2 separate regions of the Homo sapiens genome follow, and region 1 is linked to region 2. Evidence: fine-mapped expression QTL. Tissue or cell type: whole blood. Region 2 holds a variant in brackets; the other region holds the start of a gene. All regions are shown on one strand. Distances are between the middles of the regions.

What was found. PIP is the estimated chance that this variant, and not a neighbour inherited with it, causes the effect.
Region 1: it holds the start of FBXO38, and the variant in region 2 is fine-mapped to the expression of FBXO38 in whole blood (INTERVAL, PIP above 0.99). The same link has a PIP of 0.9 or more in blood mononuclear cells, lung and tibial artery.

What each region holds. Positions count from the first base shown.
Region 1 is chr5:148,379,633-148,387,822 of GRCh38, reverse strand. FBXO38 (F-box protein 38) reads right to left here and starts at 3,865. Exons shown (of 22, transcript NM_205836.3): 1 at 3,784-3,865. It overlaps FBXO38-DT (FBXO38 divergent transcript), which reads left to right and starts at 3,973. Exons shown (of 5, transcript NR_105057.1): 1 at 3,973-4,324. RefSeq lists an enhancer at 3,889-4,088.
Region 2 is chr5:148,408,104-148,416,293 of GRCh38, reverse strand. FBXO38 (F-box protein 38) reads right to left here. Exons shown (of 22, transcript NM_205836.3): 8 at 7,077-7,170; 9 at 5,529-5,659; 10 at 1,988-2,158; 11 at 224-366. Among named protein-coding and RNA genes, the nearest start is that of FBXO38, 28 kb to the right of the region's middle. The variant G/C (reference allele first, on the strand shown) is at 4,997.

The DNA of each region.
Region 1 (8,190 bases), 28 kb after region 2:
CCACCTGGGAGGCTGAGGCAGGAGAATTGCTTGAACCAGGGTGTCAGAGGTTGCAGTGAGCCAAGATCGTACGACTGCACTCGAGCCTGGTAACAGAGCTAGACTCCATCTCAAAAAAAAAAAAAAAAAAAAGAAATAAATTCCCTAAGGCTATAGCTGCCATAGACTGTGATTCCTCTGATGGATATGGGCAAACTAAATTCAAAACCTTCTGGAAAGGATACACATTCTAGAAGCTGTTAAGAACGTCTGTGATTCATGGGAGGAGGTCAAAATATCAACATTAACAAGAGTTTGGAATCCAGTCCTCATGGATGACTCTGAGGGATTCAAGACTTCTGTGGTTATAGGAGGAGCAGGATTGAAATAATAAACAACAAAAGACATCAGTGGAGGAAGTCGCTGCAGATGTGGAGGAAATAGCAAGAGAACTACAATCGGATGTAGAGCCTGAAGATGTGACTGAATTGCTGCAATCTCATGATAAAACTTGAACAGATGAGAAGTTGCTTCTTATAGATGAACAAAGAAAGTGGTTTGTTGAGATGAAATCTACTTCTGGTGAAGATGCTGTGAACATTATTGAAATGACAACAAAGGATTTAGAATACTACATAAACTCAGTTGATACGGCAGCACCAGGGTTTGAGAGAACTGAATGTAATTTTGAAAGAAGTTCTACTGTGAGTAAAATGCTATCATACATCGCATGTTACAACAAAATATTTCCTAGAAGGAAGAGCCAATCAATGAGGCAAACTTCACTGTTGTCCTAAGAAACTGCCAAGCCACCCCAATGTTCTGCAACCACCACCCTGATCAGTCAGCAGCCACCAAGACAGAGACAAGATCTTCCATTAACAAAAATATTATGACTCGCTGAAGGCTCAGATTAATTGTTAGCATTTTTTTTAAATTAAGTACTTTAAAATTATGGCGTATACATTACTTTAGATATAATGCTGTTGCACACTTGATAGATTATACTACATTGTAAAATATAACTTCTATATACACAGGGAAACCAAAAACTTTGTGACTTGCTTTATTGCAGTAGTCTGGAACCAAACCTGCAGTATCTCTGAGCTATGCCTGAATAAATAAGGAGGAGAGTATTATATATAAAGACTATACTTTGCGGTACCAGGTGTTACCTATAGGCTTAGCAACTTCTAGACCCTAAGACTCTGAACCTTAAGGAAATGTCAGAAATGACAGAATTACAGAATCCCAGAATGTTAAAAGTTGAAGAGGACCAGAGACACTACCTAATCACACAGTTCTCAATTTTTTGTGGGTCACAAACCCATCTGAGAATACGATGAAAGTGGCACATCCGTTTTCCAGACTCATGCAAGCAGAAATACATACACGATTTCAGGGGGTTCATATTCACAGACATCGAAGCTCATCTAGTGATCCCAAATTTTTAAGATGAACAAACAGAACCAGAGAGGATAAGGTGACAAATCACTTGCCCAAGATTAAATAGTGTCAAGGTTCAGGCTGGGATACAGACTTCCCAGGTTACAGTAAACATTCTATCATCAAGTCAGTCCTCTGTCACTGTGGTTGTCTTCCTGCATTCCAGAGCAATGCCCTAGTGCTTGGAGAAAGGCTTCTAGATGCTCTGATAGAACTGCATCTGACCACACCCTACCTTCACCAATTAGGATTTATGGTCCATTTAATTTAGGCTCCCATGCAGTGGTCTATGGCCACCTTTGGTATATTACAGTCACTCTGTGGCTGCCTGCTTAGCTGACCTTAGCCACAGGAAGCATTACTTTTGTCTTGGTGTTGCAAGCACATTCTTAAACCAGAGTTGTTTCCAAAAAGTGTTCTCCTATCTCGTCAATTCAAATCTCCTTCCCATCCCAAACTCAAATTACTTTTCTTTACCCTCGTGAAAAATACCCCCTCTCACTTGAAACTTCCCTATATTCTCAATGATCCTATCTGGTCAAGGGCTTCCCTGCCCTTCAAGTTTCTCATGCCTTTCTTTAGTTTCTATTGGTTTCAGCTTGCTCATATCAAAGTAATCTTGCATATCACTTAATTTGACCTCACAGACCTTAATTGACATCATAGACTATCTTGTGTATCTACTGACCAGGACAGCCTCTCTTGTCTAAAGAAATACCACACCACATAAACCAAACTGCTCAGATAAAAACCACACACAAACAAAACAAAACAAAAACCCCCCAACAGGATGATGGTGCTGAAAAAGGCCTAGGAATCATCCAGCTCAACCCTTCGTTTTACAGATAAGGAAAGTGAGGCCTAGAGATGTTAGATGGCTTGTCCAAAGTCACAGAGGCAGGATGTACCAGTGTGAAGCAGGGATACAGGTCTTCAACTCCTTTTTAATTTTATTTCACTATACCACCTTATTTCATTTTAGTATACCACCAATTTTACTTCACTATATCACCCTATCTTACTGGAATCTAGTTGTCCCTTTTTCTCCTCTGCTATGCATTAGTATCTGTTTGACTAAATATAAAGTGTGTACCTCTGGGCACACAGCCATTTAAACAAAGAGGCACACAAAACTCTACATTCTTTACCCAAGGAGGACATCAGAATTACAGCATCACATATTTTAAAGAGGGGAAAGAAGGCTTACAGATAATCTAAAATGTTAATTCTCAAAATGAAAGTTAAAAATTACAAGCGGATTTTTTTCAGTCTATGCCTATGTAATACATACCCTCCAGACTGGACCTCCTCCTTCCCTGGGAAAATCATGGCTTTATAGAACTATTATTTTATCCTTCACTTGTGCTGGGGGAATGGGAAAGGGGATTAAAAACCAGTGACCTAATCCAACGTCTTCCTTTAGCAGATAAAAAAATCTCAAGTTCAGAGAGAGGAAGGGATTTGGCCAAAGTAAACCATCAAGTTAATAGCAACTTTGGAACAAAAATCAAGGTCTCCTGTTTTTCACTTTGTAGTGATTTACACTGCTGGTTTAGGTGTATAAAACAAAGTTTTCTGGACAGAGCTTCTCATTGCACAGGAACCTTCCTAAGTGACCAGTTGCCCTTGGCCAGCTTGGTGTCTGCAAAGAAACACGGTAGACATCTCTTAGTCAAATTCTGGGTGTGCAGAGTGCAGGGAGAATATGCTTTTCAGGTCTGTAAAGACTCCATGAAAAGGGAGTTAAGAATCTGATTTCCACAGCTAGGGCACGGACATCAAAGGCATCCAACACAGATAAGCAAACTGCAGCACAGAAAAGCTAATGGACCTAGACAAGGTCACACGGTGTGTAGGTGGAAGGGGTGAAACTAGAATTCAGGGCTCCTGATACTCAGGCGTGGCAGCCAAAGATGTGTTCACTGCTTCCTGCTCAGGGACATCTCCTCACTACGCTGAACACAGACCTCCTTCACTTTACTGGCCGAAACACCGACTTAACATTAAAATCATGAAATTCGTGACGCCCGGGGTGGGAGACAGTCACAGAAGCTGTCCAGTCCAACACCCTCACCCATTTCATTGAGGAAACTGGGGCCCAGAGAGAGTTCTTTATGCTGGATTTTGGGGCCAGGTTCAGACAAGCAGGCAACCCCCGCAAGCACGGCCTAGAAGGCCAGGAACTACAAATTCAACCCCTGATCTCTCAAGGAGCTCTAGGCCCCAAGGGGGCCAGAGGCCGAGCTTAAGCGGTCGGAAGTTCCAGAATCCCCACCCAGCTACCTCAGCCCTGCCGCACGCACTCCGGGCTTTGCCACCCCGCTCCCGGTCCCCAGGCCCACTCAGCCGCCGCCTCACCTACGCCGACCCTCCGCCTGTTATTGTGGTTGAGAGGGAGGGACGCTACAGACACTTCCCCGGCCCCTACCGCTGAGGCACTTCCGCTTCCGCCGCCGCTCGCATATTTCCGGAGTGTTGTCATCCGGGGCTGGAGCCTCAAACCCGTGTCCATATTGTGTGTGTGAAGAAGCATCGAAGCGCGGCAGCCATGTTCAGCGTGGCATTTCGGAAGGCTTGTCAGGGGTGGAGAAGCGGGGCGGGTTGCTGTTCTTTCACCTGACACTAAAGCGCCATGCCGGAAGCACTGAGTCTGATACGTCGGAACCAGTCTCCACCGTGTGGTTTGGTCTTGATTTCCACTGGTACTCTGGGGTCTTGGATAAGTCTCTGGACCTCGCCTTTGTCATTTGCGAAGTCGATAGGTTCCAATAGAGATTTTCCCAGAATCATTCAACTAAAAATAGAGAACTTTTTTTTTTTGAGAGGAAGGACGGGGGCGCAGTTAAAGATGTTAATGTTAAGTCATCCCTTCTGTGATTTCGGGACATTATCTTTGCACGTAAGTAATAGTATTTTACAGTCCAAAGGAATTTCACATGAGTGTCATTAAAAACTCTACACGACTCTGACATGTAGGCAAGGATCAACTTAATCACCTTTTCTGTTGTTTAATGGATAAGGAATTGTCTTCAGAGAGTGTAATTGATTTTCACAATGTCTCGCAGATGGACTGAAATTCAGATTTTTACCTTTTACATCCTGTGTTCTTGCCCTAATATACATGTAATTAATATGGGCTAAAATCCCTAGATTTAAATAGATACAAATACTTCTTAGGAAAGTTAGTGTGCATTAAAGCCATGTGAGACACAATTTGACAAGACGTAGCATTGACTAGGCTATTCTGCTGGAGAAGAAAAAGCTGAAGAAGGCTTGGGAATCCCATTTCTTCTTATTCTTTTCTTGATTGATAGCAGACCTACTGGTTTTTCCCCTCTTTCCCCAATATGGTTCGGCACCTTAGGTTTCAGCTTGTCTTAGGCAGTCACAGTTTTAGCTATCCCATTCCGTATGTCAAACCATATATCTGTGTTTTTATTTGGAGCTCTGGTAGGACAAACAAAACAAAACCTCATCATATTCATGTACTATTCATTGTAATCTCAGCTTTCATGTTACATTCTTCCTGTAATTGAAGACAAAAATGAATTTTTATGCTATTTGCTTCTGTCGGTTTCTTCATATTCAAACTTTAATAAAGGAAACAGACTTTAGCTTTTTCTGTTTCCCAGGTTATTCTGAAGAATAAATAGGAATTACGAAAGTTTCTAGTGCAGGGCATGGCATATTTAGAAGGCATTCAGTAAGATTTATTTCAGCACAATTGGCCTGAATTTTTAATTCAATGGAATATGATTTTCATTTTATTAGCATTCCTCCTTTTGTAAAAAGCACTGTAGTGGGACCTGAAATGAATACTCATGAGTAAGAAAGGTTTCCTACCTCAAGTTTAGAAAATTTCCTACCACAAATCATTGTAATAAATGTTAAAGATATTTTCTCACTGCTATGAGTGTTATATATAATAAGATATCAAAACTAGTTTTAACATTTTCAGGTAGAGCATGTTATATGTATCCCTTCATCTCTAGGATTTATTTGTACCTTGATGTTACAGGTTTTCATTAAAAAGGTCCTGAGTTAGTATTTCTCCTGTACAGTGGCACCATCATGGGGTCCCTGAGCGCTGCAGGAAAGTTTGCCCTACAGTAAATGACCTTAAACCGCTGTGTTGTTTTAATTTTCAATCCCCACTTTTTAATTAAATTCTAAAGTATCTCTTTTCATTCTTCCATGAGTTCTAGTATCAGCCCGTGTTCTTCCTTGAAATTCCTTAGGTACCTAAACAACAGATAATCCCTTTGTTAAAATGATGACTAATACTCAAGAGAAGTTTTGGTCAGGGATAGTGGTTGGAGTTTGCTCAGGACAGGTTCATATGGCTATGGAGCCTGTTCAGTGCACAACTGCAGAAGGTGCTATGCATATCAAGGCTATTCTTAACTACCCTTAGACTTGGCGTATATGGCAGAACTCCACTATGAATTCAAATACAGGATTTTTTTTGAAGGTAAAAAGGAAAAAAAAAAACTATTGTAGCTGTTTTGACTGAGAAGTTGTGTATTTAGTAGTCAGCAATGCAGGCTTTAGAACCAGAAAGACTTGGTTAACTGTGAGTTCCTCTGCTTACTGGCAGAGAGACAATGGGCAATCACTTCAGCTCTAAGGTTCAGGTTTCTTTAAAATAGACATTATGGTACCTACGTAACAAGTCACTCCAGAATTTAGTGGCTAAAAATTTTATCTGCCCTGATTCTGTAGGGTAACTGGGTTAGGCTGGGCAGTCCTAGCTTGCAGTCTCTGGCATTTACAGTCAGATATCAAACTGGGGCTGTAGTTAATGTCAGCCTCTAATAGATGTTATATTGATGGCAGTTGAGGCTGGCTGATCTCTAGATGCTCAGTTGGAGCTATTTATCAGAGTGCCTACACTTGGGCTTTCCCTCTGATTTGGGTTTCTTATACCGTGGTGTTTGGGTTTTGACAGGGAGCACTTGGAGGTAGAATGGGAAAAAAGGGAGCTGTTCCAAGCAAAACAGGAGGAAGCTACAAAACTTCATATAATGTAGCCTCTGCAGTCCCAGGAGTGACTTCCATCACGTCGTGTTAGGTCAAAAAAGCCACTAAGCCAGCCCAGATTCAAGAGAAGAATAAGAGTCCACCTCTTAATTGAAGATGTAGCAAAGACTTTGTGGCCATCTGTAATTTACCACACTACCTCATTGTTTTTAATTTTTAGATTTTTGGATGTATGAATATTAGCACAAGCATCAAAAAGTAAGGCTTGTAGTCCCTCCAGCCCAGTCTTGCATTTGTGCATGAATAATGTCATACATTATTTTTTAAGAAAAATTGTGGCAAAATATATATATTTGTCATTTTAACCTCTTTAAGTATACAGTTCAGTGGAATTATGCACATTCACATTATTGTGCAAACACCACCGCCGCCAATCATCATAACTTTTCTATCTTCCCAAACTGAAACTCTTTAAACAACAATTCCCTATGCTCTCCTTCCCCCAGTCCCTGGCAGCCACCATTCTACTTTTTGACTCTATGATTTTGACCACTCTAGGTACTCATATAAGTGGAATCATAACAATATTTGTCATTTTATGTCTGAATTTTTTCACTTAGCATAATATCTTCAGGGTTCATCCATGTTGTAGCATGTATTTAGAATTTAATTCCTTTTTAAATCTGAATAATGTTCCACTGCATATATATTTCACATTTTGTTTATCAATTCATTCTTTATGTTATTTATTTGTTGTTTATTTTTCATTGTGATTAAAAACACATAACATAAAATTTACCATTTTAGTTATGTATTTCCATTCATTTTTAGTTTTTAGTTAATGCATAATAATTGTACATATTCATGGGATACAGAGTGATATTTCAATACATGTATACAATCTATAATGATCAAAGCAGGCTAATTAGCATATCCATTCACCGCAAACATTTATCATCTTTGTGTTGCAAACATTCAAAATCCTCTCTTTTAGCTTCTTGAAAATATACAATAAACTATCATTAACTGTATTCACCCTACCATTAACAGATGAATGAATAAAGAAAATGTGGAACATATACACAAAATATGTATACAAAAGGATGAAATCCTGTCATTGGAGGCAATATGGATGAACCTGGAGGACATTATGTTAAGTGAAATAACTCAGGCACAGAAAGATAAACACTGTATGTTTTCACTCATATGTGGGAGCTAAAAAAATTTTTGAGCCCATTTTTAAGTGTACAGTTCAGTAGTATCAACCATATTCACGTTGTTCAGCAGATCTCTAGAACTTTTTCATTGCGAGACTGATACTCTATGTCCATTGAACAAGAGCTCTCCATTTTCTCCTACCCTAGCTCTGGAAACCACAGTTTTACATCCTGTTTCTGAGTTTGACTACATTAAATACCTCATAGAAGTAGCTTCACACACTTTGTCTTTTTGTGACTGACTTATTTCACTTAGTATGAAGTCCTCAAGGTTTTAAGGCTGAATAATATTCCATTGCCTGTATATATCACATTTTCTATTCATCCATCAATGGGCATTTGGGTTACTTCCACATTTTGGTTATTATGAATAATGCTGGAATAAACATGAGAGTGTAAATATCTTATTGAGATCTTGTTTTCATCTTTTGGCATATAGATGCAGAAGTGGGATTGTTGAATCATAGGATAATTCTATTTTTAATTTTTTGAGGAGCCACCATACTCTTCCATAGCAGTTACACTGTTTTACATTCTCATCAACAGTGTACAAAGGTTCCAATTTCTC
Region 2 (8,190 bases):
ATTTTTTCCTTACCCTTCCCCAGAGAACCCTTAATTCTCATTTAGAAGAATGAGAGGCTATGCATTATTACAACCTTTATGCCTTCACTGAGGCTGGCAGTAAAAAGTCCGACTGTAACACCGTAAAGGCATATCATTGAAAAGAAAAAAAAAAAAAAATCACAGGCTGTTTTTATTTTCTTTCCTATCAAAATAAACAAAAACTCCCTCAAATGTATCTTACCTTGGGTGGTTCACGAAACATCTGATCCAGTGAAATAAACTCTAGGCTGGGTAATAATTCAATAAACTGGCCAAAAGAGTCCAGCTTCAAAGCATGGCACCGTACTAGGTTGATATCAACCAATCGAGTCCATCTTGAGTGGTCTGTTAAAGAAATGACATGACCAGAGAAAATCTAAGTAACATTTTCCCCATTACTGATGAATTTTGATACAGGTCACAAAGACTTTCAAATCCTTTTTTTTAAAATAACTTTTCCTTTTTTTCATGACTTCTAAAACCCGATGATTCTAAATTATGATGTTTACATACCTAATTCCATTGTGAGAACTAAATGGCCTGGGGAACATTAATTTGAATCCAATCAGCCCTGATTTAAATGTGATCCACTCAACAACCTACATGGCTTTTCAACAATAGGACACTGAATTAAAAAATTATGGCATATTTATTTAATAGAACATTATGTAGCTATTTCAAAAGAATTAAGGAGAGCTTAATATGCTTGCTGACATGGAAAACTCTCCAAATTATACTTAGTACAAAAAACAAGCTACAGGACAGTGTATACAGAGTAAGATCCTTTGGTATAATATAAATCATTTTTAAATGCTACACATATATATGCTGCAATATGCATAATTTGTCCAGAAAAATATACAAAAAACTGTTGATGATGGTTACCTTTGAGAAGAGGAGAGTTTTCATTTTGTACCTTTCTGTACTGTTTGAAATTTATCAAGTGCATGTATTACTTATTTTTTTAAGTGTTAACAGGAATTCTGAGTGATGGGATTATAGGCCATTTTTTGTTTTCTTCTTTATACTCTTCTGTATTTAAGAAAACAAACAAACCAAAAACCCAATAAATGTTATTTTTTTAAAGTCATCTACGCCTGCTACATCCTAAAGTTCATATTTCCCAATAACTTCTTGGTTCAGCAGGGCCAGGGATAGAATTTAACTGCTGCTGGCACATGAGACATGACTATATTAACGAGTGATCTCAGCAGAGGTCCCAGAGCCCTAAAATAGGCCTGGATAGTAGCTTTGTGAGGAGATACAGATCCCGGTCAAGTGACTCAATAGCAGAGGAGGCTGTTCTGTAGGTGTCAGTGAGAGGCTTTGTCACAAGTACAACTTTTTCAGGCTCTCAATTTATTTAATGGTTTGTAAATTTCGGTATCTAAGAAGGGCCTTTAAGAAAACAGATGACATTACTCTGAGAGGAAAATGAACTCCCACCATAAGGGAAAAATATCAAGTGCAAAAGTCACACTTCTACATATAGGAGATTGGAGGGGGAGATCTGAAATAGACTGGGATTTCTAGTCAATAGAAATTTTTATCTCAGGTTAATGTCACTTAATTAAAGTTCAACATACATACCTACTTTGTCCTTTCAGATGATGTGCTATTGTGAAGATAATTCTGAGAAAATAACTACAATATCCTAAGTCCTAGGTAACAATGAACTAACCTTAATTTTATGTTCCTAGCCCAAAGAAGTACATATAAAAATCAGGGCACTTGAATCCACAACCTGGAGAGTATACACTTCTAGGCAGAGAACGTCAGAAGTTTAAAGAGGCATTGAATATACTTCCAACTTGGTTATCAAAGGTTACCAGAACTTGTATGAACAATCCAAATGAAATACCTACATTTTACATTAGGAATGCAATCATATCACACATAGAAAACATGGAAAGTTGTATTATTTCAGTATCAATAAAACATAGCTGTATTTTTAAGTCTGTAATACCTGAGATCCAATTGTATGGGTTGTGTAGATGAGGGCAATTGTAAATTGCCAGATATTTGATACAGGAAAAAACTTCATTGACTGCTTTCATCCCTATATCAGTGATGATACCAGGATTTTCTACCACATCAGCCAAACCATACTTCACCAGATCCGCATTAGCCATTCTGCCTAAAAAGAGCAATCAATTAAAAAAAAAAAAAGTCAAATTCTTAAGTGTTAGGGAGTGTTACCAACTTTGTATCTTACCAGTCAGTATAAAAAGTCTCTACCATCATTCTGTATCATCTGCTTATCATTGGGTTCAGGTATAATTTTAGGTTAGGTATTCCGTACATATGGTAGCACTTCTTGTACAAAATAATAAATTATATTAAAAGTCAAGGGACAGCTAGTAGGAAAAATTATTTCCAATTGTTTAGAGAAGAGAAAAGGCAAAAATTCTTAAAGCATAAGTGAAGGATCTATCATACTGGTTCATACCATGGTAAAGTTTTAGCTTTATCATTTAAAAGGAAAACAAAATCTTAAAAACTCAACTCCCTTACAATAAAATGATGTTCTTGGAGCCCAGTGTGGACATGTGTAGAGAAAGGTAAACTCTGAGAATTTAAGATTCATTGTTAGAACCCATGGCACTGGTTAGTAACATCTATCTATACCCTAAAAGTGCACTTCTAACTCAAACACATGCCACTGGGCTTTAGTGCCTACTCTCTGGTCACAAACTAGGGGTTTGGGAATAAGTAAAGGAGGATCCTTTATTCTAGATCATGTCACTAAGAATCACACCTCATCCCTTGCCTCTTATCATTTCTCCCATCTGCCTGCCCCCTCACGCTCCAAGATTCTGTTAGTTCATAGTTACATCTTTAGTGTCTAGCATAGTGCTGGGGATACAAGAGCTCATGGGAATACGTCTCTCACAGTCTGCAATCAACCAATATGCAGGACAAAAAAAAAACACTGCCACTCTGGTGAAGCTGCCCTGAATATCACAGGGATTTACAACTTTAGCTACAACATGTTAAAAACAATCCATCTTCTCCAAACTTCCAATTTTACTTTCCATATAGTTGACAGTCTTTCTCCTATAGTTCCTATATTTGGTATCTCCTGGCACATCTTACAAATTTCACCTTAATCCATCCTTTACAATTTAGCTGAACTATTTTCTTTAGCTCCTGGTAAGGATCATTTCCCTGCTCTTAGGACTTCAGATGAAACTTACCATTTTCCTTAAGATAGGGTAAACCTTGAACTGACCCTGTTTCCTGGGCACTATCTGAATAAATGCTGTAACCTAACATGACAAATCGATGTCTTGCATTTAGTTTTTTGAGATGAACACCATGTTTCTACTCTTGGGGCTTCCTGCTTGACACACTCCTTTCAAAATCCTGATGATATTACTTGAGATTCATTTTTGTTTTTCTTTTCAGCCCACAGGTGAGCTAAAGGTAAAAGTTATCATTTATTGAATACTTCCTAAGTGTCAGAGATTACTGTAAATGTATACATCACTTTTCCCTTGGTTCCTCAGAGCTACCCAAGAGAAAAGCAGGATACCACCTTATCTTCATTTAAAAAATGAGAATTAACTTGCTTAGGTCTCATGATTAGTAGCAGACAGGCCTCAATTCTCTCTCTCCCTCAAGCTCTAGGACTAAATTGCTAGAACTCTAGGGCTAGGACTATATTGTTTCTGAAATTTTCACTGAGTTATACGTCTCTATCAGTATTATATAAAGCTTACAGATCATAAATCCACATGAACAAAGAACTCTCTAAAGATTCATCTTTGGGTCACTGTCAGAAGACAAAGGTGATGTTTCTATTTATTTATTCTGCCAGACCTTTTATAACAAGAAAGTGACTCAAGTTTTACCAGAGGCCAGCCACCACTTCTTGGAGAGATGCTTCAAATCTAAATTACTGAGAAGAGAGAAACTAAGTGAGAGAGTGTGAGTGAGCAGTGACCTCATGATATCGTCCATAACAAGTACCAGGCACCTATTCTGAAACAGAGAATCCTAGGTCATCTTTGGAGGGACAGAAGATAGTATGCATATGGAAGAAATGGTTAAACTGTGGCAAATAAGAAAATGAATGTACAAAGTTCAACATAACAGACTATTAAGTATGAAACAGAACATGAAACAAGTTGTGTTGAAAACTACGAGATAATGGTAGTCAAGAAGGTATTTTTATGCTATTGAAAACATATGTTGAGGAGAAAGAAACACTACAGGAAAATAATTGGTTATGAAGTTAACACTTGAAGACAATTCTTCAGTAGACCTAAATTTGGCCATCCTGAAGGTACACAATTTGTCAAGTTCTGAGCTTTTGGGAAAAATAGAAAACAAAATTATAGAAAGAATATCAATTTCAAAGCTAATAATTTTGTTACTATACAGACATTGCAGAAACATAGGGAATGTTAGATACTTCATTCAAAACCAGAAAAGCTTGATATCAAATGTATTAATTTTATATAAAATCATTGTACTCATTAGCATTTTAAAGCTATTTTGGAGAAAAGCTGATCTTTTTCAAAGCTATACAGATTTAACATGATTCTAATAGTAAACTGTCTAGAAAAGGATGGCTTGACTTTTTAAAGTAATCACCTATATTAATGAGTACTGTGAAAAACAAAAAAGTAAACAAACAAAAAACCCACAACTATTATTGTAATATATATTAGAAATGAAAAACAGTCATGTTTTTTGAGCTGGATTGTCCTGAATGGAAGAATTAAGCCTTCTTATGTTCTTCTATAATACAAACTAGATCCAAAGAAAAAATGTTATCTGCTATGAGGATGAGAGTTCAAGAAAGACTTGTTGCAAATCAGGTGGGAAGAAAATGAATTCTTGAATAAATAAAAGCATGTTGGTGATGAAAATTTTCTTTCATATCTTATTGATGCCATATGGAAAAATAGTTTGAGTAATGAATTGACATGCATTCAAACCCAAAGAAATGAGTTCTCAATTGTAAATG[G/C]GTAAGAAAATGCTGTGAACAAGCTTTCCAACAGCAATCATCATTAAATGAATACTGACCATTATGTGCTCACACTATCTGGAAAATCCAGAACCCCCAGCGGGCTTATTATGGAAATGAAGAGCATGGGCAGGGAATGGGACCTCATCTGAGAGGACCATCAAAAGCTTCAAGAAGTGTGGCAGATCAAATTCAACAATGGAACCAAGGATGACATTCTGTGAAAAAAATGAAGCAGAATGGGAAAGAAACTTGGGCAGTAAAGTGGAGACAATATCAAATGTAGATAAGGTTCTTTTTCTGGTGTATTGTTAGTAACTATATTTTCTATAATATGCTAAAATCAGAGGCAATATGGAAAAAAAAATCACTGACATTTCTAATTTAAAAGTTTATTTTTCAAGACGTGAGAGCACCTAAGATTTTAAGTTGTCTTATGTTCAAAAAGACATGGCACAACCCAATTCAGATTTCAGTTTGTCAAGTAAATTTCTTACAGTAATTCTAGGAATTAAAATGGGATAAATCTTACTCTGTAGCAAAAACTCATCTACATATCCTAGATGAAGGGTTTCAAACTGGGGAAACTCCAACTCTGCCATCTTTAGGGCAGAAAAGACACCATCTTTGGTTAGGGAAGGCTGGATCCGAACTTCATGTAACCTGTGAATAAAGACAGAGAACATATCAGAGTAAAACAAAAACCATCAGAATCAAAGATTCCTCCTAATATAAGTGTATTAGTCCGTTTCTATGCTGCTGACAAAGACGTACCTGAGACTGGGAAGAAAAAGAGGTTTTAATGGACTCACAGTTCCACATGGCTGGGGAGGCCTCACGAACATGGCTGAAGGCAAAAAGGAGCAAGTCACATCTTGACTGATGGCAGCAAGTCACATTTTTGCCTGATGGCAGCAGGCAAAAAAAGAGAGGCTGTGCAGGGACACTCCCATTTTTAAAACCATTGGATCTAGTGAGACTTATTCACTATCATGAGGACAGCATGGGAAAGACCACCCCCATGATTCAGTCATCTCCCACTGGGTCCCTCTCACAACACATGGGAATTATGGGAGCTGCAAGATGAGATCTGAGGAGAAACAGAGCCAAACCATATCAGTAAGACTCTGAAAGAAGTTCATGACTTTAGTGAAGTGTCACAGATGTCAACAACTTCCCTCCCACTTCCTCCATTGAAAAAAAAAATATTTTCTTCAAAGGAGTATCTGCAAAGTGTAAGGAAATCTTAAGCAGTACACTGAAGCTATACATTAAATAACAATTAATTACAGGTAAGAATCTTATATCCTTTCAAGTGCTTTACTAAACCTGAAGAGTCAATGTGAGAATCTGCATCTGGTGCTGGTATTTGACATTTTGCTTAGGCTAGCTATTAATGTTGCATTTTAACAAAGAGTATAATTCTGTAGTAGGTAACAATACCTACCTAAACTTAGAAACACTTTTATTTATAATCCTAATCAAGTCTCTTGATGGAAAAAGCTTTGTTTCTGAATAAATTTTAAAAATGCTTAAAGAAAATATTATAAAATAAAAGTGGAGGTAGACCATTGATATGTAAGAAATAGTAAATGTGGCATAAAGTGATATAACCACTTGGTTAAAAAATATAGAGGTGTTACAAGGTCAGACTTTGGAAAAGCTGATTTAAAACACTGATTTCTGAATAGCAAATATTATCACCAAGTAACTAGAACAATTCAGAAAATCATCCAGAGATGGAGACAATGGTCCTGAGAGGGCTACAGACACCAGAGCTTCAATGCTAACTTCTATTGGACTCTCAGCCATTTCCAGAAATTCCACTGCTTTTCTCTGATATGAGACCATGCCACTCTGGAGCTTGCTAGTATGCAGCTCAACTGGTTACCAGTTATAACATTAAGACTACCATGATGTTATACTTATCTGTTATTTGGACTTCTTCGTATTTTAAATTTGAACAAGGCTTGATCAAATGTACACACATATATACACACACATTCCACAATTTTTTGTAAAATAGGGAAAAACATAATTACTTCTAAAGTGAGAGACACAATACAAAGAGGAAACATACCTACGGGCAGCAGTAATGATGAGGTAACCAAGATCTACTTCAAGAGCATTTTTGCAAGCTCCCAGAACAATAGTGTGCAAATTTCTAAAACCACCTAAAGACGAGGAACAAAAACAAGTGTTTGACCATAGCATTTTTAGTGAAGTATTTATATACTATACATTATAAAGTATTATCTGAGATGATAATTACTGATTTAAAAGTAAATCTAAGCTTTGTTTTTGCATTGAAATTAATATCTTAAGATGAATTATAACTACTGGTGACCTAAAAGGAAATGAAAGCAGACCCTCATTTTGCAAAGACACTGATGGCATCTGAAAACTACTCTAAAAGATTTACATTGTTAAGTAAGGATTTTTAGAAAGTCAGAAGCTGATGAGAGAATTGTAAAAAAAGAAACCCTGCCATTTCTGGCCAAATTTCGAACCTCCAAATATCATATGGAACAAGACCAGAACCACTTTAACTGATTTTTTTAATGTTTCTGAAACTTGTATTTACCTACAAAAAAGAACATAAATTACTAATATATAGCTTAAAGAAATGACTGATTTATCTGTTTTAAATTTGTATAAATAAAATCACAAAGTTTGTATACTTTTGTGTCTGGCTTCTTTTACTAAACACTCTGTTTATGAGATTCATCCATATCGCTGTGTAGCTGTAGTCTGTTCACTTATTACTGTACAGTATTTTGCTATATGAATATGCCACAATTTAATTATCCATTCTATTGCCAATAGGCATCTTTCCATTTTGGGATGATTAGAAACAGTGCTTCTATGAACAATCTTAAAAATGTCTTTTGGTGAACATATGTAAACATTTCTGTTGGGTTTAAAGCCAGGAATGCAACTGTTGCTATGTGTATGACCAACTTTAGTAGATACTACCAAACAGTATTTCAAAGTGGTTGTATGAATTTATATTCTGACCATCAGTGTATGAAAGGTCCTGTTGCTTCACATCCTAGCCAACATTACTGTTTTTATCTTTTTCATATTAGTCACGAGTAGGCATAGTCATTTTAGTGCTTGAATATCACACTGTAGTTTCAATTTGCATTTCCCTAACGATTAGTAAACTTTTATCGTTTTTTCATGTTTATTGG